Homo sapiens: one gene and its partners. The protein of the gene in region 2 interacts with the protein of the main gene of each other region in a pairwise test. Each region holds a gene or a part of one and is shown on either strand. Other genes may lie near its edges.

The links.
Region 1: the proteins of ARRDC3 (region 2) and STAM2 interact in binary tests that used the Homo sapiens proteins (3 or more experiments, as listed by UniProt).
Region 3: the proteins of ARRDC3 (region 2) and RAD18 interact in binary tests that used the Homo sapiens proteins (3 or more experiments, as listed by UniProt).
Region 4: the proteins of ARRDC3 (region 2) and ZRANB1 interact in binary tests that used the Homo sapiens proteins (3 or more experiments, as listed by UniProt).

The regions. Positions count from the first base shown.
Region 1 is NC_000002.12:152,165,556-152,173,236, reverse strand, and holds part of STAM2 (signal transducing adapter molecule 2), read left to right. Parts: intron 1-7,681.
Region 2 is NC_000005.10:91,379,911-91,387,609, forward strand, and holds the start of ARRDC3 (arrestin domain-containing protein 3), read right to left. Parts: upstream 3,408-7,699; 5' UTR 3,183-3,407; coding exon 2,903-3,182; intron 1,015-2,902; exon of another isoform or gene 437-1,014; intron 188-436; exon of another isoform or gene 1-187. UniProt on the Homo sapiens protein: Adapter protein that plays a role in regulating cell-surface expression of adrenergic receptors and probably also other G protein-coupled receptors.
Region 3 is NC_000003.12:8,876,224-8,883,802, reverse strand, and holds the end of RAD18 (E3 ubiquitin-protein ligase RAD18), read left to right. Parts: intron 1-2,343; coding exon 2,344-2,446; 3' UTR 2,447-6,728; downstream 6,729-7,579. UniProt on the Homo sapiens protein: E3 ubiquitin-protein ligase involved in postreplication repair of UV-damaged DNA. Postreplication repair functions in gap-filling of a daughter strand on replication of damaged DNA.
Region 4 is NC_000010.11:124,937,631-124,945,618, forward strand, and holds the start of ZRANB1 (ubiquitin thioesterase ZRANB1), read left to right. Parts: upstream 1-4,492; 5' UTR 4,493-4,826; coding exon of another isoform or gene 4,827-4,863; coding exon 4,864-5,677; intron 5,678-7,988. UniProt on the Homo sapiens protein: Ubiquitin thioesterase, which specifically hydrolyzes 'Lys-29'-linked and 'Lys-33'-linked diubiquitin. Also cleaves 'Lys-63'-linked chains, but with 40-fold less efficiency compared to 'Lys-29'-linked ones.

The DNA of each region.
Region 1 (7,681 bases), on a different chromosome or scaffold from region 2:
GATTTTTGTTACCCTTTTTTTTTTTTGGTCATTCCTTTGTTCACTCTTCATTCAGCAGGCATACATTGAATAATTACTGTGTGTCAAGCATTGTGTTAATCTATGGACACAAAATGAGTAAATAGACTGTGAGTTCCTGCCTTCAAGGAACTCTCAATCTAATGGAGGAAACAGAGAGACATAAGACCTGTAATTTAGTACGATAAGTATAGTGCTACAAATATACAAGAAGCTTTAATCCTCTTTTATTTAAAATAGTCATAGTCCCTGAAGAAAAGACAAGGACCTTCAGATAGGAGCTTTCTCTGTAAAGGTGTTGACACTATCCTCTCCTTCCCACCTTTTCTTTTTTCTTTTTCTTTTTTTTTTTTTTTGAGACGAATCTGTCTCTCAGGCTGGAATGAAGTGGCCTGATCTTGGCTTACTGCAACCCCGCCTCCCGGGTTCAAGTGATTTTCCTGCCTCAGCCTCCCGAGTAGCTAGGACTACAGGTGCGCACCACCACACCTGGCTAATTTTTTGTATTTTTAATAGAGATGGAGGTTTCACCATGTTGGCCAGGCTGGTCTTGAACTCCTGCCCTCAAGTGATCTGCCCGCCTCGGCCTCCCAAAGTGTTGAGATTACAGGCGTGAGCCACTGTGCCCAGCCTCCTCCCCCCCTTCTCTGATAGCACTTTCCCAACAGGAAGTAACCACCTTTTGCTAATGTATGATATGGTCATTTTATGATTAAAGGCCTTTAAAGATTAATCTCTTTTGGTAGGTGAAGAGTCTTGCAGGAGGGTGAGCAGTCTTTCTGACAGTCATATGAGGAAGGAATCCTTTTCTCAGGGGCTGAGAAAAGGATGGGTCAAGATGTCTTAGGAAGGCACTCATGAATTGATGATGATATGTGACTTGTCAAATGGAAGCAGGCCAAAGGCTAGGAAGTAGGGAACTCTGGCAAATTCCTGTCTTTTCTTGGCATCAGAACCTACAAGCCCTGAAGGATATACTAGATTTGGTAGTGTTAGAACTCTTTAAACATTTTATCTAGATTCATTTTTTTGTTTTGTTTAATAAGATTTCTTTGATGTGTTCTGAGGGGAAAAAAGAAAATATCCTTAGGTCCCACCTCTTCTCCCCAGCTGGGCCTCAAGTGTTAGAGGGGTACAGGGATCTTGAGGTAGAGCCTGGTTGGAGTAGCCATTCTTGTAGAATTCCAAGGGGAAAGTGAAACATGGGGGACGGGGCCACAGTGGTTAGTGTTAACAGAGAAGATGTCATTTCCTTATTCATTGATTTCCAAGTCATGACTTGTCTGTTCTAAGCCTTAACTCCGGTTCTTGTTTGCATATCTTTTTTCCCTTTACTCAAGCCAGGCAATCTTTCTTGCCAGTTTTCTGCCTCTGTGCTATTTACCATTCATTGCTAAATGTTTGCTCTTTTCAACCTTGGTATTTCCTTTAAAGATACGCTTGTGTCCCACAAAGCTGAGCTCAAATTCTACCTCTACAAAACTCTGTGGACGCAGTGGTTTGAATTGTTAGCTTTTAAGAGAATACATTTCCAAGTGACATTTTAATGTGTGTATTGCTGTGTTTCTGACTTTTGCTGTGTTAGAAGAAGTTGACCAGGAAGTAGCTTGGGACTTTCTCCAGTGAAATGCAGTCATGCAGTCCTTTTCTCCAGTGAAATTTTATAAGAAATCCCAATATAAAAATAGATATTGATAGCATAAGAATAATATAAATTCATAACATACACACAAATTTATAACATTTACTTAACTAGGCCACTCTTTGTACAATAAGTTAAAATCTTTGTAAAAGTAAAAATTTTTTTAAAAAGTTTTTTGGTTTTGAATAAGAATAGTAGACTTAACAGCCAGTTTTTTTTCTAATATATTTTGTAGCTTTTTAAACTATGAAATATTTTCAGCATAAAATAGAAAATATGAACTCCCATTCCTGCCAGGCAATTATGTCAAGTGCTAATATTTTGATATACTTGATTCTTTTTTTTTAAGAAAGGAACATTCAAGATGCAGTGAAATACTTTAGTATTTTTAGCAGCTACCTGATCCCATTCTTCCTCCTTTCTCCGAGTTAAACACTCTATAAATAGATAGAAATTCTCTTTAATAGTATAATACTACACTTACAAATATACTATATATTGTTTGGATGTTTTTAAACTTCTTAAAAATGGTGTCTTTTTGTCATTCTGCAACTTTTGTCATCCAGCATTTCTTCTTTTTTGAGACGGAGTCTTGCTCTGTCGCCCAGGCTGGAGTGCAGTGGTGTAATCTCAGCTCACTGCAACCTCTGCTTCCCAGGTTCAAGCAATTCTTGTGCCTCAGCCTCCCGAGTAGCTGGGGTTACAGGTGCGCACCACCATGCTCGGCTAATTTTGCATTTTTTAGCAGAGATGGGATTTCGCCATGTTGGCCATGCCAGTTTCGAACTCCTGACCTTAGGTGATCTGCCTGCCTTGGCCTCCCAAAGTGCTGGGATTACAGGCGTGAGCCACCGTGCCTGGCCCATTCAGCATTTCTTCGTGAGAGTTATTCATGTTGATGTTTGTAGCTCTAGGTTATAAATTTTAATGGCTGCGTGATACTATACTACTATATGAATATGCATTATCTGTTGTCCTATTGACGAACATGACTTTGTTTTCAATTTCTTGCACCTACAGACAGCTCTGTATTGAAAGTTTTTATCTATGTTTTCTTGTGTTTATGGGTGCAAGATTCTTTTTTTTTTTTTTTTGAGACGGAGTCTTGCCCTGTCACCCAGGCTGGAGTGCAGTGGCGCGATCTCAGCTCGCTGCAACCTCCATCTCCCAGGTTCAAATGATTTTCCTGCCTCAGCCTCCCAAGTAGCTGGGATTACAGACGCCTGCTACCATGCCCAGGTAATTTTTTTTTGTATTTTTAGTAGAGACGGGGTTTCACATGTTGGCCAGGCTGGTCTCGAACTCCTGACCTCGTGATCCGCCCGTCTTGGCCTCCCAAAGTGCTGGGATTACAGATATGAGCCACTGTGCCCAGTGGAGTGCAAAATTCTTAAAGGTTGTCGTCTTGAAGGGGAATTCTTCAGTAGAAGTGTAGCTCTTGGCCTGGTGTGGTGGCTCATGCCTGTAATCCCAGCACTTTGGGAGGCTGAGGTGGACAAATCTTCTGAGGTCAGGAGTTTGAGACCAGCCTGGCCAACATGATGAAACGTGTCTCTACTGAAAATACAAAACTTAGCTGAGTGTGGTGGTGAATGCCTGTCATCTCAGCTACTCGGGAGGCTGAGGTAGAAGAATCACTTGAACCTGGGAGGCGGAGATTGTGCCACTGCACTCCAGCTGGGGCAACAGAGTGAGACTCCATCTCAAAAAAAAAAAAAAAGTGTAGCTCTTGCAAAGTTGCCCTTCCAAGTGTTTGTTGATTTCCCTCCTGTCAGCAGTGAAATTCCTGTTGTTCCACATCCTCACTAATGCTGAGCATTGTCAGATTTTCTAATTTATGCCTATCTGATGAATATGAAGTAAGACATTGTTTTCATTTCATTTTCTATTTCTACTTCATTGCCAGTGAAGATGAGCATTTTTTCATATGTTTCTTCATCATTCTGTTTTCTTTTTCTATAAATTGCCTGCTCATTACTTTTATTATTCTGTTGGGTTACTTTTTAAAAATTGATGGCAGGGTGCAGTGACTCACACCTGCAATCCAAACACTTGGTGGATTGCTTGATCTCAGGAGTTCGAGATCAGTCAGGGCAACATGATGAAACCCCATCTCTACAAAAAATACAAAAATTAGCTGAGCATGGTGGCGCGCACCTGTAGTCCGAGCTACTCGGGAGATGGAGGTGGGAGGATGGCTTGAGCTAGGGAGGTTGAGGCTGCAGTGAGCCATGATTGCATCACTGCACTCCAGCCTGGGTGACAGAGCCAGATCCTGTCTCCCGAACAAAACAAAAAAACGAAACCAAAAACCAACACCAAAAAATAAAACAAAATTGATTTTTAGAGTTCCAGATACATTTCTTACTAATCTTTAGTTGGGTATGTATGTTACAAATCTGTATTCTAGTTCTGTTTGTTTCTGCTGTCTTTTATTGTAAAGAAAATGTGGGTTTTCACTTAGTGATATTTGTCATTCTCCCTTAATTTTATTTTTCTTAAGAAAGGCTTCAGGGCTGAGTGTGGTGGCTCACACCTGTAGTAAAGAAAAGAAACCCTTCTCCACCCTGAGGTTATACAGATATTTTCATATTTTCTTCTGCAAGTTTTACTAAACTTTTGATTTTCACATTTAGGTCTTTGATCCACCAGGAATTAATTTTTGTATAAGGTCTGCGGAGGAATTGAATTGGATAACCAGTTGACAATAGACAATAATCAATTGTCTAATCACTGTGGATTGAATTGTCTGTTTTTTCCCCACTGTTTTATAATTGTCTTAGCTATTTTGGGCATTTCAAATGGATTATATGACAGATTGGTTAAAATCATTATACAAGGGAATTTCTTGTAGGTTTTTAGGATGTAAGAGAAAAGACATTATAATTTTATTTTTGTTTCACATCAGCTGATATTGATGGTTTAAAATATATTTTTATTCCTTAATAACATTTAATGATAAGCTTATGTATAATTTGTAAGTAAGTCAAGAAGAGAATGATTTTCTGCCAGTGAATATACAACATAATACTATAGCAGTGTAGTTAGGTGGATGTGTCTCTAGCATGGCTTTTGTTTAAATAAAGGACCTCAGAGGTGTTGCGTGTAATAGGCCTTGTGGCTGGGCGCGGTGGCTCATGCCTATAATCCCAGCACTTTGGGAGGTCGAGGTGGGCGGATTACAAGGTCAGGAGTTCGAGACCAGCCTGACCAACATGGTGACACCCCATCTTTACTAAAAATACAAAAATTAGCCGGACATGTGGTGCATGCCTGTAGTCCCAGCTACTCGGGAGGCTGAGGCAGGAGAATCACTTGAACCCGGGAGGCAGAGGTTGCAGTGAGCCAAGATCGCGCCACTGCACTCCAGCCCGGACGACAGAGCGAGACTCCATCTCAAAAGAAAAAAAAAATAGGCCTTGTATATAAGTATGTAGGGTAGGATATCAAACTCTGGTTACTTGACAAGTGATGGTTCTAACCACCTATTACCCAGGTATCAAAATGAAACTTAAGGATATATCATTTCTTTATCTCTTGTTATTTTTTTCCTCCTTGGTTGTCTATTGTCCTTTAATCTGACCACTTTTCTTCTCCCCCTTCCTTGATTTTTCATTTTGTCTTAAGTTAAAAAGCTTTTATTTTATTTTATTTTTTCTTCTTTTTTGAGACACAGCCTCACTCAGTCGCCCAGGCTGAAGTGCAGTGGTACAATCTCAGCTCACTGCAGCCTCTGTCTCCTGGGTTCAAGCAATTCTCCTACCTCAGCCTCCTGAGTAGCTGGGATTACAGGCACCCACCACCATGCCTGGCTAATTTTTAATTATTTATTTATTTATTTTTTTCTAGAAATGAGGTTTCACCATGTTGTCCAGGCTGGTCTTGGACTCCTGACCTCAAGTGATTCACCTGCCTCGGCCTCCCAAAGTGCTGGGATTATAGGAGTGAGCCACCATGCCTGGCCTAAGTTACAAAGTCTTTAAAAGTGTTTTTGCTTACAGTCTTTTTCCTGTTATAAAAATATCAGCTAATTGGCAATATTTGTCCAACACCATGGGTGAGAAGGATATTAGTTCCTGAGGCATTTTGGTATTGTTGAAACATTCTTTTCCCTCATCCTTTGTTTTTTAGGATTAAGTTTCACATTGACTTATTGGCATCTGCTATCTTTTTTGGTGTAGTAAGTGTTGCTCCCAGCTTTTAGACTTCCTTTAGCGTTATTTTCTTAATGGGTCTGTGGCTGCTATGCTTAAAGGACAAGCACCTCTCTGTCCCTATAGCACCTTGTGGAACATTTACAGTTCTTCACCATGGAGACCTGTTATGGCGATCTCTGTTGCATTCAGGGAGGCCTTTCTTTAGTTTCCTCCAGTTAAGAAATGTTGAAAATGAAGTGTCTTGTGAAGTAGTTCCAGTTCTTACTGACTTTTAATGCAAGCTCAGAACTGTGTTTAATCTCATATTTAAAAAAAGCATGAAGGGAAATGATGAAGGATTTAAAAAATTTTATTATGTACAGTCTCCCTCATATTTAGTGTAATTTTTAAATGATAGCAGTTGGATGAAAAATCTGTTATTCAGTGAAATTGTTATTGTATCTGAAAACTCGCAAACTATTTTCTTGGTCGGTAAACGTACCCTTAGTAAGCACTTGCTTATTTTCATTTGCAATATGAGAATTGTAGTGACTCAGAATTTTACTTCTCATTTGTACTAAAAGTTTTTTTTATTCTTATCTGGAGCAGCAGCTTTTACTTTCATTTGTCATGGGATGAATTATCTTAACCTTCTCTTCTAAAAAAAGATCTGCTTAAAGAAATCTAGCATGTGCAGTGTTTTGGTTTGTCCCCAGCAGTACTAAGTCCTTGAGGTGGAGGGTTGAAGGGGAAGAACTTTTTTTTTTTCAAACATTAATACCTTATTAGGTTCTCTTAAGTTACCTGATAATGAATAAACCTTTATATTTAATGGAGAGATTGAACCTAAGAAGGTCATTGTGGCAGATATCTGGGAATGGCCATTGTCCCCTGAAAATTATTGACATTCTGAAGTGGCCACCTGCTTATAGGTGTTAAGAATAGGCTGTGTATATATGTATGTAGGGTAGGATATCAAACTCTGGTTACTTGACAACTATCAGTTCTAACCATCTATCACCCAGATATCAAAATAAAACTTAAGGATATATCATTTCTTTATCTCTTGTTATTTTTTTCCTCCTTGGTTGTTTTTTGTCTCTGAATCTGACCACTCCTCTTCTTCCCCTGCCTTGATTTTTCATTTTGTCATATTACTCCAGTTTTATGTCAGAAATTTGTCACTACATGATGATGTAGTCTTAAAATTTTTAGCTATTCTAGTGGGTATGTCATTGTGGGCTTTGTCGTTGTTGTTGTTGTTTTTGAGACAGAGCCTTGCTCTGCCCCCCAGCCTGGAATGCAGTGGCGTGATCTGGGCTCACTGCACCCTCCACCTCCCAGGTTCAATCTGGGACTACAGATGTGCACCACCATGCCTGGCTAGTTTTTGTATTTTCAGTAGAGACAGAGTTTCGCTGTGTTGGCCAGGCTGGTCTGCAACTCCTGGCCTTATGTAATCCGCCCGCCTTGACCTCCCGCAGTGCTGGAGTTACAGGCATAAGCCACTGTGCCCGGCCTTCATTGTAGTTTTAATGTGCATTTACTTGATAACTCTTGATTTTGGGCACGTTTAAATATATTTATTTGCTAAATGAATGTTCTCTTTTTCAAAGTACTACTTGTTTAAATATTTTGTCCATTTTTCTTTTCACTTAATTTTCACAACTCTTTTAAGCACGGCAGCTATTTTAATCTCCATTTGACAAATGAGAACATGGATTTGGGTTTGAGTCAGAATGGAGGTGAACTACTCCAAAGCTTATAAGCTAGTAAGAAAGCTTCAGAGATGGATGTAGGCAAGGCAGGTCCTCGTTGTTTTATTGGTGATGTGTATCCCGCGCCACCCCCCTGAAGCCTGACAGTACTCCACAGGTGCATACGG
Region 2 (7,699 bases):
ATGTCTCCATACAATTTTCCTCGTCCCCTGTGCAAATTCCCCTGAACGGATTTCAGAACCAAAAACTAGCTGATGAGCTGGGGGCCATTTAAATTCGCTCCCCTCGAAGGCGCCCGAAGTTCGCCTTCCTTTCCCTTTCTTCCCTCTTCGCTCCCTTTTTGTGCCAGCTCAGCAGTCTCATTGAAGCGAGCGGCGGCGGCCGCGCCGTGGTAAACAAGTGCCGGGCTGTCAATCAAGAACTAGACCGGAGCAGGAGAGGACCGGCCTAAACCGGCGCGAGCAGATCCCAGCCGGCCTGCCCGCGCGCCGCCGCCGCCGCCGCTGCCGCCCGCGCGCCCCGCTATACATACGGCATACGTCGCGCGGCGCTCGCGCCCGTGCCCGCGCAACCTAGCCTGCTGGCCGGGGGGCGGGGCGAGCGAGCCGCGGCGCTTCCGCTTTACACGCCCCAGCCGGCGACCGGTTCCATCTGGCTCGGGCCACTCTGACACCTTTAGTTTCGGCAAGGGATATTGGGGTGGCGAAGGGGAGGCGGGGGCCCGAAGGCTTCGGAAAACGATGGGGGAGGGGGCAGAGGATACCCGTCGAAGCCCCCCCCTCCCCCAACATTTCGATATTGGAATCACTTTCCTTCTTCCTCGGGCCAGCCTTTGCTCTGTCCCCTCAGGTCAACTCAAGGTAGACAGTGTGGCGACTGGAGAGGTCGGGGAACAAGCTTTGTTTCAGCTAAGGGGAAAACAAGCGTTCACAGGAGTCCCCTGACACCTCCCACTCGGAAGATAGCTAACGGGGGTCCTGCCAACCCTTCCCATCCAACTTCCATCTGAAAAGGATTTTCTGCTAAAGTTGGGTCCATGGCCATCCAGCACCTGTAAGGCCGGCAGGAGCGTCTGCCCTCTACTCAGTTAAAGCCTGAAGTCGTTTCCTTTCGATGGCCCTTAGGAGGCCCAAAAGAGGGGCGACAGAACATGATGTTGACACGGGCTGGGCGCCCCCAGAAGCCCGGGAACAAACGTGAGTACGGGCTGGGTGGGGGTCGCTCTGGAGGAACCTTTACCGGCGCACGCCGGTTTCCTAGCCTCGCCCCAGCCGCGGCGCGAGCTCACTCTCCCCACCCGCCCGCGCCCAATCCAATCAGCGCCTGCCATCGCCTTAGCAACAGGCTAACAAACCTGGCTCCGCCTATCCCGGGCGCCCGGGGCGGGGTCTCAGTTACCAGGCTAGTTTGAGAGCTCCCAGTTTCAAGTCATTGAAACTATTCCAGACTGAGCTCGTCTACGCGTTGCAGGGTTTGGGGGGCATTTTGTTGGGGGTGCAGGGCATTTAGTTTTCTTTACCACGAAATCATGGTGCAACTAATGAAATTATATTTGTCCTCACATCTCGTTGTTCTACTTTTCCCCACTGCAAGTCTTAACCCCTTGAGGAAAAATCTGTTTTCTTTCATCCGTTTCATAAAAGGCTGCAATATTCAGAAAGGTACAAACACAAAGTCATCTATCTGCTTTTCAACAAATACCAAGGCTGTCATTAGGCATTTGCATCTCCTATCAGTGTTAACACTTGGAGAGATTAATTAGTTATTTCAGGATGCAAAGTACCTGTATCTAACTACGAAAATCCTGCTAAAGAACTGAGTTCACCTTAATAGTTTCAAAAATAATGCATTAATACTGTCCCTCAAAGCATCCTTCATTTCTCACTTGCCTTAGTCATCAGCACTTCTCCAGGATGTACGTTTTTAATATAAAAAATAAGGTAAAATATGTCTCTAATTTTTTTTCTGAAAAATCGCCAACATCTGAACTAAATACTGCATTAAAAAGGAGAGGCACAAAAATTACATAACCAGTTTTAACATTATATTCTTCTTGGGCTAGGAATTAAGTCATCGCCACCACCTGACGCGTGTAACCAATCTGCTGAGAGCAGAACAAGCGCCCCTCCTCACCACCCCCCAGAACTGGTCCGAAACAGGATTGAACCGCTTCTAACAAAGGGTGGAAACTTAGAAAAACAAGCCTAGAGTCTCCTATATTTCCACAATGTAACCATTTAAACAATAGATTGGAAATCTCAGGACTCCTTCTCCTTTTGACAACCCTTTATCTCTCTCTTCTAACCAAAAATCAAATCCAGTGTGCCCTATACTTTTCAATTCCATTTGACTGGCATGGGTTTCATTGAATGCACGTTCCAAAGTTAGACATGATGCTCGGAAAAGAAAATTACTGATCCTAAATGGCTTCTAAACCTGACTCGATACCTATCATAATGACAGATAGTCATTCCTTTAAAATAAGGAATGCTGGGTGTAAATTTTTAAAGGAATGGTAAAGAATAGAGAAAAAACACGTGGGGTGTTGATACCATATGTCAAAATAAGCCACAGAAATCTTTTATGAAAGAACAGTCATCAATTATTTAAAGTCTTTTGCATTCCAATATTAAAAATGAAACACACCCATTAAGTCTCTTAAAAATGTTATTACATTTCTTGATCGAAGTTCAGTTTTTACATCTTAGGTTGCAAGTAAAAGGGCAAAAATCTAAGACTGCAGCTTTTACCAATTCATTTGAAAATATATTAGTAAAACGACTGAATTGGATTCAAACAGAATTTATAAGTAAGGTGCAAATGGACTACAAGTGCGTGTGGCACAGACCGAGCCGGGTACAGAGGTAGCTGAATAAGTGTAGTTTGCAGTCACTTTGCAGATGCCTGCATGCATTACGGCTTAACACACGATGAACGTCAAGGAGAATCCAAACCTTCCAACTTTGCTAACCTTTCTCAAACTGCTTAGTTATGCTAGGAGTAGAATCACGTTAATTCAGAAAACTGAAAAGGTACGTTTCCAAAGAAAATGAGTCCAATGACTTATGAATAACAAAAACTTACCTCTTTCGTGCCCAATTAAGATGTCTTTATGGTTGAAATACTCTACTTCTTCAGTGTAATTCTGTGTATAGGCAGTATTGGAGCCGGCGTTTCTAGATTCAGTCCAGCGTACTTTCGCATGTCCTCTTGCATGAATTTTAAGAGATTTTACTCTGATTTCCCCAGTAACTTCTAAATTTACCCTTCCTGAGACGGTATCCCCACTAGAATACACAGGGACATTGCTGTCATTAAGACAGTCAAAGCTTATTGTCAAACTCTTCACCTTTCCCAGCACCATGTTTATAACAAAATCTATAAAAATATAATGTAAGACAAAAAAGTCAAGATCGCATATAAAATGTGATCTTCACTTAACACTGATCGATATTTTTGCCGTGCAAAATGCTTGCAGGCCGGATCAGTGATTCTCTACAAATAGTTCATTGAGATTTCTTAAAAAGTCAGGGCAGCAGAGGCTGCTGCTCCGCGCTCCCGCTCGTCTCAGTGGTCTCCTTACAAAGACGGGCGGCTAAAAGCTGCCAGCTCACTTTAAGAGCAGCTTTGTGAAAAACAACCCCAGTGCGCAGGCGCAGGCCGCGGCTGCTGTCCGCCCTCCCTGCGCGCCCCCTCCCGCGCCGCGCCGCGCCGCGCTCGCTCCCTTGCCCGCTCGCTCCCGGGTACAGTAGGTGTAGAGCTAGGGGAAGGAGATACTGGAGCTGCTGGCCGGCTGAACCTGACTTCTCTTCATTGTGGGCTCCTATTGGTAGGCAGGCTACCGTATACCCTCGACGTGCTATCTGGAGCCCGTTACCGAGCGCACTCTACTAGAAAGATAATGGCAGAGTGGGGTGCGAGGGTACAAGGGCTGGGTGGGGAGTTTGCAAAGCCAAGTTAGGATAAACTGCAGCGACCAGCCCGAAGCGTGCGTTACCGGCACTGCAGCGTTTTACCAACTGCCTGGATGGGAGGAGGAAAAAGTGATGTGTGAAGAGAGATGGGGGAAGGGAGAAACCGGTTGGGCAAGCGGCCGATTGTTGAGCATAATCTAACGAATTTCCAAAGAAAACGTAATAAAACCGGACAAGAAATATTGTTCATAGACAAGAGCATACTTTGCTTGGATTTTTTTTTTTTAAACCAGTACTTTGTAGGCAGGTTGGAAATGAACTCAGTCGAGGTCAAAGGAACCTTAATCCTTTGAAGAGCGAGGTAGAGAAGCAAGTACAATGTAATCAATAGGCTTTGCTGTCTCCTCAACTTCTTTCTCCTACATTGCTTAATTAGCACCGAAAAACAACCAAGTTGTTTCCAGGATGACACGGGTGGGGGCTGGGGGAAGCTTGATCACTTCCTCGAAGGAAGAAAAAGTCCTTTTAAGACACCACCTACGGCTAGATTTGCAGAGTAAGACATGATTACAACTCCTGTGTCCAGAGGAATAAGAATAGAGTTCGGCCTAAAAAAGTACTACCTTATAAAAGGCATATGACATAGTGGTTTAGCTGACATATTGTTTGCAACAGAATCGGAAAATCTTTGTTAGAAATTAGTGAAGCGCATAAAATTGTTTTTAAAAAGCATGATTTGGTATATAAATAGGGATTTAACTGTGTGAAGCTTTAATTTTCGGCCGAGAGCCTTGGACCATTTAACGTAGTAATTCTCATGATACATCTTAAATATAGGTACATTTCTCTTTTTATTGTGAATGTTTGGTAAAAAATAGCAGTGCTTTCGTCACATCACACTGGGATTCAGAGCATAACAGCATAAACTCATCTAGATTACTGGCAATCAACAGAACTGCCTTACAAGAGAAATGTAGAAAGAAAAAATATGAATCTGGTGCTCTCTCTATATATATATGTATGACCAAAAATACCTTGGAAGATTTTTGGCTGTCCGTGTCTAAACGTTTTAGATTCTTTTGCGTAGTGTATATGGATAGGTTGAGCCTATGAGTCACAATAAACTAAACTTATTGGTCTTGCTGTTTTATTTCAAAAGAAACTAAGCTTTTGGGGGTTGGATTTTAGTTGACAAGGCAATATCTTGGACTCAACAGCAATATATAAAGAGTATAAATATGCAAACTAGACAATTAATGAGCAGGCCATTTATTTCAGAGTTTAGATCGCTATGCATAAAATTATAAATTTGCATATTTAAGTGGGAAAAACAGTCTTATCTTTTCCCTACCTCTTGGTTGACACCTGGTGGAAATTCTAGGTAAAGTACCTGGGGCCTTGTACTAGCTTTGATTACAGATACTACTTGTGTTTTTTCTCCACCTAGTGGTAGAAGTGGTGAATTTCCTAGAATGACAGCTTTTCCTCAGCATAAGGTCAATGATATTTAATAAGCATTCGAAAACCACTGAGCAAGGAATGGATTTAAAAGTGTAGTCCATAATGAATACATAAATTCATTGCACATTTGTGTCTACATTTATGTTAAAAATTATTAAGGGTTAGTGAACAGCTGAATTCGGATTTTTTTAGTAAAATTTATTTAATTAGAATATAACTCATTTCAGAAAAAATAAGAATTAGCTATATAAATACACCAGAATTGCATTTAATAAAAAAGAAGTCTAAGAAATTTATTTGTAGTTTGGAAAATTGTTTTAAAATATTAAATGTTTCATTCCTGTCACTGTGTAGTACATTATTCTTTGTGTTTGAAGCTTTCAGGATCTTTTGAATAGTTGTCTTTATTATTTATTTTGCTATTTTTAAAATTTTCTTTTTACTGTGTCTTCTTAAATACTTAGGTAACTGGCAAATTTCCAAGAAATTCTTACCAGCTGCCATTTTCATTATATTTTTATTTTTTGAGATGGAGTCTCACTCTGTTGCCCAGGCTGGAGTGCAGTGGCACAATCTAGGCTCTCTGCGGCCTCTGCCTCCCGGGTTCAGGCGATTCTCCTGCCTTAGCCTCCGGAGCAGCTGGGATTACAGGCACGCACCACCACCTCTGGCTACTTTTTGTATTTTTAGTAGAGACAGGGTTTCACCATGTTGGCCAGGCTGGTCTTGAACTCCTAGCCTCAAGAGATCCACCCGCCTTGGCCTCCCAAAGTGCTGGGACTATAGACATGAGCCGCTTGCGCCTGGTCTCGCTTTATCTTTTCAATTCTTAAAAACAAAAACAAAAACAAAAACGCTTGGACCAAATTTTGAATGTTTTCTCTTGTCGCTTTCATAACTTCCCCCTTTCAGATTTTTTGTCTAAATAGCTACTCCTTAGACAGCTTGAAATGCTGTACTGTAGACATTATCTTGGGCTTCTCAGCTTGCTTCACTGGGCCATTATTGTATTTTGTATTATATTTAAACTATTCGTCTTTACCATCAAGGCTCTTTCCTACTTCTCCCCAGCCTACGTCTCATATGCCATCTCCTCCTACTCATCTGCTAACTCTCTATAATCCTGTCAAGTACATCTTCTGTCCCCTTTGTTAGCTTGTCTCACTGTTGCCAGTATGCAGTTACATGTGCTTTTGGTGCCCAGAATAACATCCCACTACTATGTTATCTCCTTTGCTTTTTTCTAATCCCTCCACTAGATGCAGTTGGCACTACTGAGTAAAATTCCAACTAGACTGAATAACTAGCTTCCCTTCCCCTTTCATTGCTTCTTCAGAGCTTAAGTAGGAATCTCTTTTTATATTAGCTTTTGAGTCAAATGGCTCTTTCACCTTAATATATTAAAGTTTGAACTCAATCTCAAGAACTCTATCAAAGACTGATAAATGATCATTGCTGTCAAGTTGTATGATATTGAGGAGATATGTTAAGATTACTGCCAAGTTTGGAGTTTTTTGCATATTATATCAACATGCTCAATATTTTTATTTTTAAAAAAAAAGGAAGCCATCTCAACTGGAAGTTTTGGTGTTTGGTTGAAAAAAAAAAAAACCTACCAGTAGTCAGAATCTGTTTCATAAAGAAAAATATGAAATCTATGCTTAATCTATTTTAACTAGCAGCTGATAGGCTCGAGTGCTATGGGACTAAGGGGGATTTTTTTCCTTTGGTCTTAATTCTGTATTTCAAGATTTTGTAACTCTGACTTAACTCTTTAATATCGTCACAGTGCAGCAAATTTGGCATGCAGACTGGACAGAAGACTTGCTGTATTATTAGCAAAATGAGTAGTATTTGTTTTTTAGCTTTGAGAGCTATTACAAACATAACGCATATTATGTTTGTTATGTTCTTCATACTTAATAGACTTTTAAATATGTTATGGATTTTGTGATGAAACTCACTATCAAATTTGGATTCTGATATCCTTCATTAATAAATAGTATAATTTGTGTTATGTGAACACCATTTAATCTGTTATATTTTATTTCTTGATTAAAAGAAAATCACCCATAATTCTACTGTCCGTCCATTCAGAGACACCACTGTTAACATTTTGGTGTATTTCCATCCAGATGTACAACTAAAGAAGAGCATTGCCAGTGAAGCTATGGCAGTGCATATTATCATGTAGAAGATGAGTTGGTAAAGTTTATTCATCTAAGCTCAAATGGCATCTGGTCTACAGAAAGAATTAGGAATGCTAAATTTCTTTTCTGAACTACTTTATAAATTTTGACTTTTGACTATGCACAACTTTATATAATGAGGGTAAAATTTTATTTGCTGTAATAAAATATTTTCTGGCTGAGTGTGGTAGCTCATGCCTGTAATCCCAGAACTTGAGAGGCTAAGGTGGGAGGATTGCTTGAGTCCAGTGGTTTGAGACCAGTCTGGGCAACATAGCAAGACCCTGTCTCTACAAAAAATACAAAAATTAGCCAGG
Region 3 (7,579 bases), on a different chromosome or scaffold from region 2:
AAAGCCTAATGGTAAAAGCTGAAGAATAAGATTTCCATGGGGGTTTTGAACAGCTATAAAATATTCCTGGGAATCTAGAGGGTCACTCTCATTCATAGAGCTTCCGTGCATGCTTAGGAAAGACCTAAGGAAGCGCTAAACTTTCACCTCTGGTTAACCATGAGGCTGTGTGCAAGCAGGAAGTAAAGGCTAAGGCAGAGTTGTCCACTGAGTGTTGAGTGAATGTTGATTGCATGCCCCAGCACAGACACAGAACCCACCAGCAAAGACTGGTTTTGCTGAGTTTCTGTATGATATTGGTTCCAGATGTCTAAGGAACTGTTCAATCATTAGTGGACTACAAAGCTAATCAAGCAGACACTTTTAGTTGCCATATACAACAAAGAATACATATTTATAGGATTGGTTTAGAAAAGTCACTAAACAATAATAGCAAACAGCAACAACAACAAATCCTGGAGAGATCTTGTTTGTTGGTTGTTTATTTTTGGTATTTCTCATGACTGGGGTTCTTTGACCAACTTTGATCTTGATTTGAAGTGTTTCAACGTTTTTAGAAAATCCACAGCCATATATATTTACATATTTATTATCCATAGTTCTTTCTCTCCTTTCTTCCAGGTATTACAGTTATACACATGTTATGCCATTTTTATTGTCCCACAGCTCTTGGCTGCTCTATTCTATGTGCACCCCCTCACATACTCCTTTTTCTCTTTGTATCTTAATCTGGTTTTTATTGACATACCTTCAAGTTCACTAAGTCTTTTTATCAACTTTGTGTATTGCACTTAAAGCCTATTGAAGGAATTTCCATCTCGAAATGGGTTTTTCCCTTGCTTCATTGTGTATCATACTTTTTGAATGCGGGCCATGCAGTGAAGGACCATAGGGACTGAGGTCGATAGTGTTTGTGCCTAGAAATGCACATCCTTCTACTGGGTCATTAGTGTGGGGAGTTGAGCTGGGTAATTCAGAGTTGACCTGGATTGGAGTTTCCTAGTGACTAATGTGACCTTCAGTGCATCCACTTCAAGTTACTCTAGCAGGTGGCTGCTTTGACTTCTGCTTAGTGTTGGGGCTGGATTGCCAGAGGGTTTTTCTCATTGATTTTGCTCCCATTTTCCTTTCAGCCATGCTTGCTTTCCTGCACCAAATAGGGGCATATCTTCACCATGTCTGTGTCTCTCCCTCAGCCATTTCCTGCTCCTGCTTATTGCTTGTTGCTAGGCTGATGGTGGGAAACAGCCGGGGTTCACTGTTATCTCAGTCTAGCCTGAGTCTTAGGTAGGCCCTGTGTGCCTGAGTCTCAGGGGTGGGCCTTTCTCAGCACTTCCACCTCCTCCCATGGTATCTGGCTACTTGACCAAACCTCTGCGTGGTGTCAGTGTAAGGTCATCAGCTGGAGATGATTTACTGCCCCTCCTGTAAGGTAGAGGTTTTAGTTTCTACCATTCCCCCTGCAGCAGTGAATCTTTGCCTGCGTTCCTGCAAATGAGGTCATATGCCTCCCCTTGAGGCAGACTGATTTCACCTCTGTTCCTTCCCCAGAGGCCATAGGTCTTTGCTAGAGCCCCAGGGGGAGTTTCCTGTGTTTCCCTCAGCAACTGAAAAGCTTATGCTTCATGGGAGAGAAGCATTCAGGAGAGCAGGCAGGACTTGACTTCTTCCTGTCCCCCGTAGCCACTGAAGTGGCCCCTCTCCATTCACCTGTCCTGCTCCCAGTCTTTCTTGTGAGCACCTGACGGAGGCTCGTGGAAAAGAGCTGGCAAGTGTGTGCAGACTCTCCTTGTGTCAGGGGCCTGCAATACTAGCCTGTATTTAAGAAATTAGGAAAATCTTAGCTGATTCTTCTTACCTGTTTGTATGGCAGCCACCTCGTTCTCCAACACTCTGCCAAAAGTGAGAGAAGTGTGGCCCATCTTTGGAGGGGCATATTTTTCTTTGGAATTTTACTTTCTTAGTTCCTTTAAAACCTCAGGTCTCTGAAGGATCAAACAGAGTTAAGATTTTGTTAGACTGTCTGGCTTTTTCTTGTTAGGATGGGAGCAGCTTTTTGTTTGCCGTTTTTTCCCAGCCCTCTACATGCTAAACAGAAGCATAAAACTCCTAAATTTTAATTCAGAAAAAGGGGTTCAGAGCTCATTTACTATCTGTGATCTTTGCTAACTCACTAATTCATAAAGTGGAAATACTAATAATAACAATTATGAATTCATCAACAGAATAGAGGATTATTTCGAGGTTTTAATGAAATAATATGTGTGAAAACACTTGTAAACTAGAAACTGCTGTACAATAATCATTACTTTCCAAGATGTCATTTCCTTTTTCTGTCTTCAGAAACGATCTTCAAGACACAGAAATAAGTCCAAGACAGAATCGCCGCACAAGAGCCGCTGAAAGTGCTGAGATTGAACCAAGAAACAAGCGTAATAGGAATTAATGTGGGCTTTTGCTGACTTTTCAAATGCATTGATTAGAATACCGTACTTTTGGTTGCCACAGATAGATTTTCTATTTATAAATGCCCAAGGAAAGATGCTAAATTCTAAATATTACGGTTAGCTGATATTCATTCTTTTCTGCTTTTCCAGAGGGGAAAAATGTTACAAAATATCCTTACTTGGTCAGTTGCCTCCTGCCTCTAAAACATCTCTCTCTAAAAATACTGACATTTCACACAGGTACCAGCTTTGCAGAGGAGGTAGACTCTTTGGCACTTTGGCACAGGGATTTGGTTTGGTTTGGTTTGGTTTGATAATTAAATTTCAGAATGTCCTTAGGCCATTCTCCTTCTCTTCCATGGAGAATCCAGCCTCACAAAAGGATTCTTTCAACTTCTTTATTGCAAGAAACAGTTGAGTTAAATGTTTGTTTTTGGAAAGGCGGGATGTCAGTTCACATCCTTGGTGTGTGTAAGTACCGATGCACGCCACCACCATGCCTGTGTTACAGCAGCTCCATGATGGTTGTTGCCCGAGGTTAATGTAGTTGTTTGTTAGACCTGTGTCTTACACATTTCTCAGAGTAGGATATTAGTATTATAATTTAAAGCTACGACAGTCACAAAGTCACAATAACTTAGAAACATTGCGCATATTCTTCTGAAATAGCACTTAAAAATGATTAGTGTCAGTATTTTTTCACTTGGGTCAATCAAATCTGTAACACTGAATCCAAGCTATTAAACAAAAAGTATGCAATGAATGAATTTTGTAAATGAATAGAGAGTATCAGTTTACAATAATGTTCTTAAAACAGTATCCTCTGGATAGTTGAGTATGGGTTAGAAATCATTGAAATGGATTGGTCAGAAATTGCTATCTGTGTAAAATGTCTACCAGTAGCCAGATGCTTCCAGAGTTCTTAATGCCTCTCTGGCATTTCAGAGCCAGCATCCCCCAACTCCCACCCCTCTGCCATCACCCAACCCAAACACATCAGCTTTCAAATGAGATGATAGTAAATGCGGCAATGTTAAGACAAGAAATTTATGATTTGCCAGATTCAACATTTATGACCTCCCCTTCCAAAGACTGTCTCCGTTGACCTTGTCTTTTTGGTATGCCTTGGGGTTTCTGATAATGTGTGGAGTCTCATTATGGCTGAGAGTTTAGTGTTTTCACAGTGAAGTGCAGACATTTGATTTCTTTATGAGTTCCCTGTGTTAGAAATGGCTATAGAAAAATTTGTCATAATAATTTCATTTGCATGAAATCCTGAGGGGTGCATTAAGGAAACTAAAAGCACCACTTACCAAATCTATCGGCAGAACTGATGTGAGGTAAGTGAGCATGTCAAACAAAATAGGAGCTCACATGGATATATTTATGTCACTGAGTTGTCAGAAATTATGTCAAAATGAAAACTGTTTGTTTCATGACAAATTATATAGTCTATAAATTAAACTGGAAGTAATTATTACTTTAATTGCAGCAAAAGGAGTTTGTGAGGGAGCGGTGAGACCCAAGATTGGGAAAGTAGGCACATGAGTTCATTCAGCAAATATTTGGTTATCTATGTCTGTCACTGTGCTGACACTGGGAATACAAAGGTGGCCAAAGATCATCTAGAACAATGGTTCCCAGTGGGGTGGGCAGAAAGATTTTGCCCCCCAGGAGACAGCTGGCAATGTGTGGAGACACTTTTGGAGGTGGAGGGTGGTGAGGGGTACTACCAGTATCAATGGGTGGAGGCCAGGGATGAGGCTAAACACCCAACCCTCATGGATTAGTTTGCCAGGGCTGCCGTCACAAGATACTGCAGACGGGGAAGCTTACACAACAGAAATGTGTATTCTCAGAATTCTGGAGGCTGGAAGTCCAAGATCAGTAGGGTTTCTTCTTCGGCCTCTCTCCTTGGCTTCCACTCATGGTGTCCTTGCATGGTCTTTTCTCTGTGTGCACATGACTGTGCAGGACTGGTGTCCCGATTTCTTGTAGGGACAGCAGTCATTGGATCAGGGCCCATGCGTATGGCCTCATTTTACTTCAGTTACCTCTTTTTTAGATAGAGGGCCCTATCTCTAAATACTGTCACATTCTGAGATACCGGCAGTTAAGACTTCCAACATATTTAGTGGTAGGGGTTAAGGGGCACGCTTTAGACTACAACACTCCACAGTAAAGAATTATCCAGTCTAACATGTCAGTTGTGCCAAGACTGAGAAACCTGTAATGTAAAGGAACTCCCAAGTCTACCTGAAAAGTAAGGTCTAAAGAGCATTTATTGAGCACTATCTGTTAGCACTTAGCATATGTTTAATATTCATACATTGAAAGAAATGTATGTTCATATCCATCTGACAAAGATTAAGGAACTTAGAGTAAGTAATAGATCCAAAATTGAAACTGATAAACTTCTGGTTCTAAAATTCACCTTTTAGTGAAAATACAGTTTCTCACCAAACTTACAGTAATTCAGAGTTATTAACTCTTTCTACCTCCTCACTCCCCTCAAAGTTATAACATCTCCCATCAACATCAGCTCAGAATGGCAGTGATGCTTATGGTTTGTGGGGGTGCAGGTGAGCTGCTGGATGCACTTTAGATGGCCTAGTATGCCAGGCCGTCCTTTCATCCTCTACTCTCGTCTTTCTTTTTCGACCTCATGTTGAGGATTACTGGTCTAGTTGAAAAAAGAATTCATACACATAAGACCATGTATATAATAGAGGGAGGTATGCCTTTAAAAACAAAATTACATGGTAAAGACTGATGTGTCAACAGGGATAGACAACATAGAGAAGGCTAGAACTGTTTCTGGAAAAAAACCCAAAAACAATGGATTTCAAACTTCTTAGCATCCGATAAAAGAAAGTAGCAATTATTCAAATGAGAAACACTTCTGTCTGTTATGTACATATTATGAAAGTATGAACATAAGAGGGAAAACCACAACCATTACATTTTTTACCATTTCAGTAATTTTTTTTTGGTTTTTAGTCTGTTTTTAGACATCCTTAAGAACAACTATCTGAGGCTGTAAACAAGTATTTACATTAACACCCATGATACTGACTTTATACTCCCTACCTGCATTGAGACCTTAAAGGGGGCATTTCTCCATTCCTTCTGTGTATTTCTGGGTATCCCCAGGTTCAGATATTCAGAATACAGATACAAGTCCATGCTTGCATATGTTGCTGCTCCCCCCGACAGACTTCTACCAGCATCTGCCCTCCTCACCGCTGCTCTGTCACGTGCACTGCGGCTGGCCCTGCTGGAAAGTCCTACCTTGCCTAGGACGCCATCCCCGATATAGCCCCAAGATGCAAACCTGCCAAGTGCTAGGGCAGCCCTGCCTTCCTGTCCATTTCAGTCTCTTGGCCTTGCTGTGTTCCAAGTGGAAATGGGAGTGTGCTTTCCTGGTTTGCTAGTGTACTATCACCCGGACCACAGCGTCCTGTGCAAAAATTTGCTTCCTCTCTCTTCCCCTTTCACTCTTTCTCTTTTCTCTTCCCCACCCCCTTTTTTTTCTCTTTCCCCTTACCTTTCTTTCCTTTCCACTCTTCCTGTCCTTCCTTCCTTCAACTATTAGGACTATATGTCAAGTAATGTGCAAAACAAAGACAGTTCCTGCCCTGATGGAGCTTGTAGATCAGAAGGGAAGATGAGCATTAAGTAATTATATAGATTAATGTACAACTGTGATGAGTGCAACAAAAGAGAGGTTCATGGCACTATCAAACATGCAATGGACGGATTTTGTTTTTGCCTATAAACTCTTGCCATAGAAAGCTTGAAAATCAGTCCAGGGGGACAGCATTAATCACCATGTTCTTTCCTTATCCCTGTCTTCCCCAAAATTCATGTGTTGAAACTTAACAAGAGGTGGGAACTTTAGGATGTGATTAAGTCGTGAGGGCACAGCTCTTATAGATGGGGTCACGGTCCTTCTAAAAGGGCTTGAGGGAGTGGTTTTGTTTCCTTCCATCCCTTCCGCCACATGAGGACACAGTCTTCGTTCCCTCTGGAGGACTCAGCAACAACACACCATCTTGGAAGCAGAGAGCAGTCCTCACCAGACACGGAATCTGCCAGTGCCTTGATCTTGGACTTACCAGCCTCCATACCTGTGAGAAATAAATTTCTATTGTCTATAAGTTACCCAGACTGTGGTATTTTCTTCTGGCAGCACAAATGGACACCCAGAAACTGATGCATGCATCTTCTGACTCCTTTGATTCCAAAATACAAAATATTAGAATAAAGTTATGGAAGTCAGCTTATGCTAGTAAGTGCCTGTGTGTCTGCCAACTTCCCAATAGTATCAAGAGAAGCTGGACAAGTCAGAATTTCATATCACCTATCCAGGATCACCTCCATAAACACACAAACACACACACACACACTCACACACACACACATACACATACACACACACAGTGCTTTCATTTGTCACAGAAAGATTCCACAGTGCATTAACAATACTATTTAATGATTGTATAACAATCCATCTGGATCGTGTGCCATTTTGCACAGACATTCTACGCTTGGACACTTACGTTACTTCCAGCTTTTTCCAATTACAAATAATTTAGAAGGCATCATGGTGCATATAGTTTTTTCCATATATATGATTACTTCCTTAGATTACATTCTCGGAAATGGAATTATTGGGACCTTAGCTTTTAATAAAATATATGGCCAGGTTTTCAAAACGGGACACCAAAGTATTCTAAAGGAATTTTTTTCTCTGGGTCTTAATGGGTTTTAAGAATCACATTGGAGTTCATCAGTGTCAATGTCACAGCAAATGCAAGGCTTTCATTTCTGTTAACTATCAAAGCTGAGAGTCCAAAATTGAAAGGGACTAAAACAAAACAATTCTATGGAGTTACAAGCAAACAAAGACCAACAATACTTTTCATGTTCTAATGTAATAGAAAGTTAGATAGGTTCTAATTATCCCTAGTTTCAAATTAGAGATATACAATAGGTTGCGTATCCTTAATTTGAAAATCTGAAATTGGAAATACTCTGAAATTGGAAACTTTTTGAGTGCTGATATGACACTCAAACCCTCACTGGAGCATTTTGGATTTCAGATTTTTTGGATTAGGGATGCTTAACTG
Region 4 (7,988 bases), on a different chromosome or scaffold from region 2:
ATGACAGTATAAAAAATGTTCCATTATGTAAGTCCCTTTCCCCCGCCTGCTATTAGTACATATACCATATTTCTGCACTTTTATTATCTGAATTGGAAAGTATATAATTAAAAACAGTTACGAATTTAGTACTTGTCAATTTAGTAGTAGTAAATGGTTGATATATTTAGAGACATTATTCATTCTACAGGCAGAGCTTGATGCACAAATGGATTCCTGGTCTCCTTGGTCCACAGGATGGGAACTGTTGGTATTGCATTTGAACCAAGGAATATTTGTCTTAAGAGTAGCAGTTTTGTCCCGTTCTCCTTAAAGAAGGCCTAGATTATGTTGATTTTATTGTGGTTTTATTTTACCAATTAATTGAAGTTTGAGTCCTTGGATAGAATTTGCAAATCTGCTTTGCATGCAAAATTAAACTTGTAAACTAAATTTACTTGGGCGTATGAATATATTTAATACTTAAAGTGATATTTGGTAAGTTTTATTTCAAGGTAGAGTATTAACTTTTAGAGCTGGCTACTTTGGAAATAATTTTATGTACTTTTTGGAATGTTTTGACATCTGGAAAAAGTGTACTCTGTTAATTTCTTTGTAATACTGCAAAAAAACACATAGTTCAGTTGATGTTATCCTTACTGTTCAGTGCTGTTTACTAATTACCACAGGTAGAAATGGCTGTCTCAGATAATCTTCAATGAATTTTTTCTTTTCTTTTTTTTTTTTGAGACAAAGTCTCACTCTGAGTGCAATGGTGTGATCATGGCTCACTGCAGCCTCAAGTCCCCTGGGCTGAAGCGATCCTCCTGCCTCAGCCTCCTGAGTAGCTGGGACTACAGGCATGTGCCACCACCCTGGGCTAATTTTTGTATTTTTTGAAGAGATGTGGTTTTGCCATGTTGCCCAGGCTGGTCTCGAACTCTTGGATTCAAGCAATCCACCTACCTAGGCCTCCTGTGCTGGGATTACAGGCGTGAGCACCTAGCCACTCTTCAATGAATTTTACCTTGCAGTTACTAAACAACATTCCTGCAATGTTTCAAGTTCTCTCAGAGTGAACACTGTACATCATTACGTTTTTTTTTTTTTTTCCTTGAGACAGCCTTGCTCTGTCATCCCAGGCTGAAGCACAGTAGCACAATCATAACTCACTGTAGTCTTGAACTCCTGTACTCAAATGATACTCCTTCCTTGGCCTCCTGAGTAGCTGGGACTATAGGCACAGGCGACTGCACCTGGCTAATTAAAAAAAAGTTTTTTTTTTGGTCGGGCATAGTGGCTCGCGCCTGTAATGCCAGCTCTTTGGGACGCTGAGGCAGGTGGATCACTTGAGGCCAGGAGTTTGAGACCAGCCTGGCCAACACAGTGAAACTCCGTCTCTACTAAAAATAAAAAAATTGGCTGGGCATGGTGGGATGCGCCTGTGGTCCCAGCTACTCTGGAGGCTGAGGCAGGAGATTCACTTGAACCTGGGAGTGAAGGCTGCAGTGAGCCAAGATTGTGCCACTGCACTCCAGCTTGGGTGACAAAGTGAGACTGTCTCAACAACAACAAAAATCGTGTTTTTTTTTTTTTTTCCTTTTTTGTAGTGATGGAGTCTTGCTGTGTTGCCCAGGTTGGTCTTGAATCCTGGACTCAAGTGATCCTCCCACCTCATTCTCCCAAAGTGCTGGGATTAAAGACTTGAGCCACTGTGCTTATTATCTAATATAAGGCACATCTCAAAACTCTTGAGCTTGGTTTTGGTATTGCTTAGTTACCTGGATTTTCAGAGGTTGGTGGGCTAATTAGGCAGCTGTCTGTCCATTATTTTACCAGGCATTTATGACAGTGATTATTTTTTATGACAGTTTTTTGTTTGTTTTTTAAATCAGCCTGGACATTTAAATATATTGTGCCAGCATATTAGTTACATGAAGATTAGCTAAGATAACATAAGGTTACGGGCTGTTTAGTTGCACCTACAAACATAGTAAGACTTATCAAAACAAGTATGGATTTTGAATGTGAATATTTTAAAAGATATATTGAAATTACTTAGAGTAGCCCTGGATATATGTTCATTATGGCATTTATCTTGTTAATAAGTTTCTACATGCTCATTTTAATTTCCAGTAGCATGAGCAAGTAACTTATATTTCATTCCCGAGAAACTAAAAGAATCTGCCTAAAGAGTATGAAAATTGCCATTAAATCTGTATTGTCTACTTTCTGGATGGTTATATCATTATAGTTCTCTGCTCTTCCACACATTTTTGGGCTGCTATCAGTTTGTAAGTAATCATTATACAAACTAAATTTAAAAATTTAAACAAGATAATTTTATATTACTTGGATCAGGGAAAAAAATGCAGTTGCTGAAGGTGGTTTCATAGCTAAATATAAGCAATTATTTTGCTTTTTCTACTTTTTTGGATTTTATCATCTTTTCCCTTTTAGTAATAGAGTAATACAGGTAGGAATTAACTTAGCACTGCCAAATTAATAGTAATATTAGAACTGTGTACACAGCACAGGGTTAAGGTTATATAGAAAAATGTCTCATCCATGTTTAATTTGGCTGACCAGCCCAGTTGATTAGCCAATTTTATTGTTTTGTTAAATTAAAATTCTAAATATAGTTGTCCATTGTTAAAATAAGTGAGTAGGGTTAAAATAGAGAATTGATAAAAATAAAGCCTTAAAAATCTTTTAGCTAAAGTAGCAGGCTTCAAGTGAAATTCAGTTTTGGTCTCCTTTACAGGAATAGCTATTCAGTCAGACAGAACCACTTATCACGTTTTGCAGTATCTCCTGAGGAAGTCAGAATTCTGAGCCAGCATGAAGACGGAATCTTGTCTTTGATCTGATTTGCAAACCGTACTTTTATTCTAATCATGTGCAAGGTGGAGGTTATAGCGTGGGAACTAAAATCTTAGTAAGTGTGGTTTTTATTTTAGCTATTAAGTAGTATACTTTCTTATAGTGATTTTTTTTTCTTCTTAGCAGAGTTCACACTATAAATGGTGTATGGACTTGGCAGGCAGGAACATAATACAGTATACTTCAAAAGTGAAAGATTTAGGCCAGGCGTGGTGGTTCATGCCTGTAATCCTAGCACTTTGGGAGGTCGAGGTGGGTGGATCACGAGGTCAGGAGTTCATCAAGAGAAGCCCGGCCAAGATGCTGAAACCCTATCTCTACTAAAAATACAAAAATTAGCCGGGCATGGTGGCATGCACCTGTAATCTCGGCTACTTGGGAGGCTGAGGCAGGAGAATCGCTTGAACCTGGGAGGTGGAGGTTGCAGTGAGCTTAGATTGCACCACTCCACTGCATTCCAGCCTGGGCAAAACATAGCAAGACTCCATCTCAAAAAAACAAAAATGAAAACAACAACAACAAAAAAACAAACAAACAAAAGATTTAACCCTCTAGGTTCAGGAAAAATCCCTGAGAAAGAGAGAGCAAAGCTTCTATACTCTGCCTAGGATTTCTTTCTCTTTCCGGGTGAAAAATAGGTGTTGGGATGATACTGAGTTGATAAAAGTATTTAGGAAAAGTGGCCAGTGTCTAAATTCAAGCCATTAAAAAAAAAAAAATTAAATTTGTTATGTAAGTTGCTTCATTTATGAATTAGTTGCCATTAAATTATGAAGTCTTTCTTCATTATAGTGTAGTGTTAGCCCATTGTTGAATCCTAGAAATCTTTTAAGTAGTGTGAATATCTTTTAAATATGAATTGGATTTTTTGGGGGGCAGGGGATGGAGTCTCACTCTGTCACCCAGGCTAGAGTGCAGTGGTGCGATCTTAGCTCACTGCAACCTCTGCCTGCCGGGTTCAAGCAGTTCTCTGCCTCAGCCTCCTGAGTAGCTGGGATTACAGGCACCTACCACCATGCACGGCTAATTTTTGTATTTTTATAGAGACGGGGCTTTACCATCTTGGCCAGGCTGGTCTTGAACTCCTGACCTTGTGATCTACCCGCCTCAGCCTCCCAAAATGCTGGGATTATAGGCTTGAGCTACTGCCCCCGGCCATGAATTAGATTTTGAGTATATTTTAAATATTCAAAATTTAAAATATTTTAATTATGAACATTCACAATTATATTGGAATGATTATGCTACTGGTTATTTCAGTGACCTTCCACAGATTTAATTTTCCCCAGTACAGTCTTCTTTTTTTTACTCCAGATAGAACTAGATTTTGAGGCTACAGATTATCAAGGAACTACCTATTTCATAATGTTACTTTGTTAATTGTAGCCATTACTTCTCAACATGTTTCTTTACTACCTGTGCTAATTAAGAACAGTGGATAATTAGCATTTTAAGTTGCTTTTCTCCCTTAGCGAGAATGATAAAATAGACGTTGCTTGATCTTCTGAATTCATGAATCATAATCTGTGTTCATAATTTGAGAATGGTTATGTGTTTAAGCTATTTTTTAGTTTGTGTTGTTTCCTCTACCTTTGTCTCTTTAAACTATTGGTTACTTTTCTAAATTGATGTGATGGCCTCCCTGAAATTAAACATTTCTATTAGTGGCTTCCCGTTAATCTCATCCTTCTTAGATCAAACCTCGTTATATCTCCTGCCTATCTCTTTTGCATTCCAAAGTTCAGTTTTATTAAATCCCAGGGTCTAAGATTTTTTCTTTGAGAATTTATCTCCAGTGTTTCTATGGAAATTAAAAAAGAAAATTAGGATAATTCAATGTCGAAATGTTGCATGCATCTTTTGAGAAATTTATATTTTGTAGGTTGAAGGACTTGCTTTTTGGGCAGCGTATTTTTGGAGGTGGAATGTAGTTATTTTAATAACCATGTCCTAATTATTTATAGCTTCCTGCCTGACACAGCTCACTTCAAGAAGTGCACAATGTCAGAACGTGGAATTAAGTGGGCTTGTGAATATTGTACGTATGAAAACTGGCCATCTGCAATCAAGTGTACTATGTGTCGTGCCCAAAGACCTAGTGGAACAATTATTACAGAAGATCCATTTAAAAGTGGTTCAAGTGATGTTGGTAGAGATTGGGATCCTTCCAGCACCGAAGGAGGAAGTAGTCCTTTGATATGTCCAGACTCTAGTGCAAGACCAAGGGTGAAATCTTCGTATAGCATGGAAAATGCAAATAAGTGGTCATGCCACATGTGTACATATTTGAACTGGCCAAGAGCAATCAGATGTACCCAGTGCTTATCCCAACGTAGGACCAGGAGTCCTACAGAATCTCCTCAGTCCTCAGGATCTGGCTCAAGACCAGTTGCTTTTTCTGTTGATCCTTGTGAGGAATACAATGATAGAAATAAACTGAACACTAGGACACAGCACTGGACTTGCTCTGTTTGCACATATGAAAACTGGGCCAAGGCTAAAAGATGTGTTGTTTGTGATCATCCCAGACCTAATAACATTGAAGCAATAGAATTGGCAGAGACTGAAGAGGCTTCTTCAATAATAAATGAGCAAGACAGAGCTCGATGGAGGGGAAGTTGCAGTAGTGGTAATAGCCAAAGGAGATCACCTCCTGCTACGAAGCGGGACTCTGAAGTGAAAATGGATTTTCAGAGGATTGAATTGGCTGGTGCTGTGGGAAGCAAGGAGGAACTTGAAGTAGACTTTAAAAAACTAAAGCAAATTAAAAACAGGATGAAAAAGACTGATTGGCTCTTCCTCAATGCTTGTGTGGGTAAGTTTCTGTATTCTGCATTTTTTGCGTGGGATGGGAAAAGGTAGTAAAAATGATATGAAAAGAGCTGGGTGCGCTGACACACGTTTGTGGTCTTAGCCACTTGCTTGAAACCAGGAGTTTGAGGCTGTAGTATGCCATGATCGGTCTGTGAATAGCACTTGCACTCCAGCTTGGGTAACATAGTGAGACTGTGTCTCCACGCACATGCAAAAATGTGAGTGTGTGTGTGTGTGTGTATATATATATGCGCAAAGTCACTAGCATTTGATTCATTCAGCACGATAGCTGTACTTTCAAGTATGCATACATAAAAATTTGTGTATTTGTGATCTTGTCGTAACTTTGTACTAAATTGCCCACAATTAATTGTGTTCATGTCTCTCCATTACTGGGGGCAGTGGAAACGTTTAAGTTAAAGCAAAGTTTTTACACATCAGCAGTAAAATATATACCTGGACTTTAAAACTGCTACTCTGTTTATTGTAACAAGATGTAACTGAGGAACACCAGCTGCTGTTTCCAAGTATTTGTAAACAGTGTGAGCATCTTGTGATGATAGAAGCTTTAGTCAGATGTTAAAAATACCACAAAAATGTGTGACTCCAAGAAGTTGAACAAACATATTGACCTTGAAAATACTGGTGTTAATTTAACATGAATGTCATGTAGTAAATGTTTGCAAACTTTATGGAACTGATTACATGTAGCCAGCTGATTCCATACTTCAAGTTATGGTTCATATGTATTGTGACATTTTCCTCAGGAAATGCTGTTAAAGGACAGAGACATAGGAGAGCAGAGTTTTTCTTCAGTTCTTGACCTTGTGAGTTAATTGTGATGTAATTCACAAAAGCAGTGACTTGAGTCTTCAGTATTTTTTTTTTGAGTAGATTAGATGTTTGATTTTTATTAAATTATTTGGATGGGCTGCTTGCTTTGACATTTGGTCTTATGAGGGAAATTTTGAATGATTACTAAGTTTAAACTTTGTGTGGAACAATAGCTAAGCTTTAACTATACCTTAGCTGTATGTTTTCCCTCAGTACCAATTTCTTTTATTTATCCCTCTGGGTACAGCCCAAGAATATGGAAAGTTTAGGTGTATGAACCTGTGAGTCCTAGGAATTGATTTCCAAGAAATCGTGAGTTTTAAAATTAAATTATATATATCATTCCCCCCCCCCCCCCGCCCCAAGATGGGATCTCACTCTGTCACCCAGGCTAGAGGGCAGTGATGCAATCATGGCTCACTGCAGCCTCAACCTCCTGGGTTCAAGTGACCTGCCATCTCAGCCTCCCCAGTAGCTGGGACTCCCCATTAGCATGTACCACTATGCCCTGCTATTGTTTTAAATTATTATTTGTAAAGATGGGGGTCTACCTATGTTGCCCAGGATGGTCTTGAACTCCTGGGCTCAAGCGATTCTCCCACCTCAGCCTCCTAAAGTGTTGGGATTATAGGCATAATTTGCTGTGCCCAGCTGAAATCCTGAGTTTTCAATTTTAGCTTTGTTCTGGCAAAAAAGAATATCCCAGCAGATGAATCCTTCTGACCTCCAGACTTAGTAGGCACTTAGCAAGTCTTAGTTCTAGTTTCCTCCCATCCTGAGGATGAGGGGATGAAAACATACCGGGCTATCTTCTGTCTGTGTTGTCCCATTTTATTCCTCTGATTTTTCTGCTCCAAATTGAGGGGCAACATACAGTATGATTGTCAGTTAAAAAAATTTAAACAGGAGATACAAAAGGGTTTTGTTATTAGTTTCCTTAGAGATCAAATTGATTTAACATAAAAATTCACCGTTTTGCAAGTGAACAACTCATTTGGCATTTAGTGCATTCACATTGTGTAACCACTACCTCTGTGTTGTTCCAGAACATTTTCATCATCCCAAAAGGAAACTATGTACCCATTAAGCAGTTACTGCCCCCTACCCCTACCCGCTAACCCTTGATAACTGCCAGTCTGCTTTTGGTGTCTGTGGATTTACCTATTCTGGATATTCATATAAATGGAATCTTTACATATCTGTGAGCTTTTATGTTGGGTGTGATTGTCTTTTAATTGCTTGTATGCCTTTGGAACAGTCTTAAAATCATTTTTTTTTTTTTTTTTTTTTTTTTCAGGGAGTAGTGTACTATGAATACTTGGACTACAAGGTGGTGTTATAGTACATGTAGGTTTATAGATGAAAATGAACTAGACTTCATTGTGACGGTTCTTAACCTCACAGTGAAGGTCACTAAACCTCACTAAAGGTCATAGAATCCTTTAGGAATCAGGGCTTCATTTCAACCCCCGGTTGCT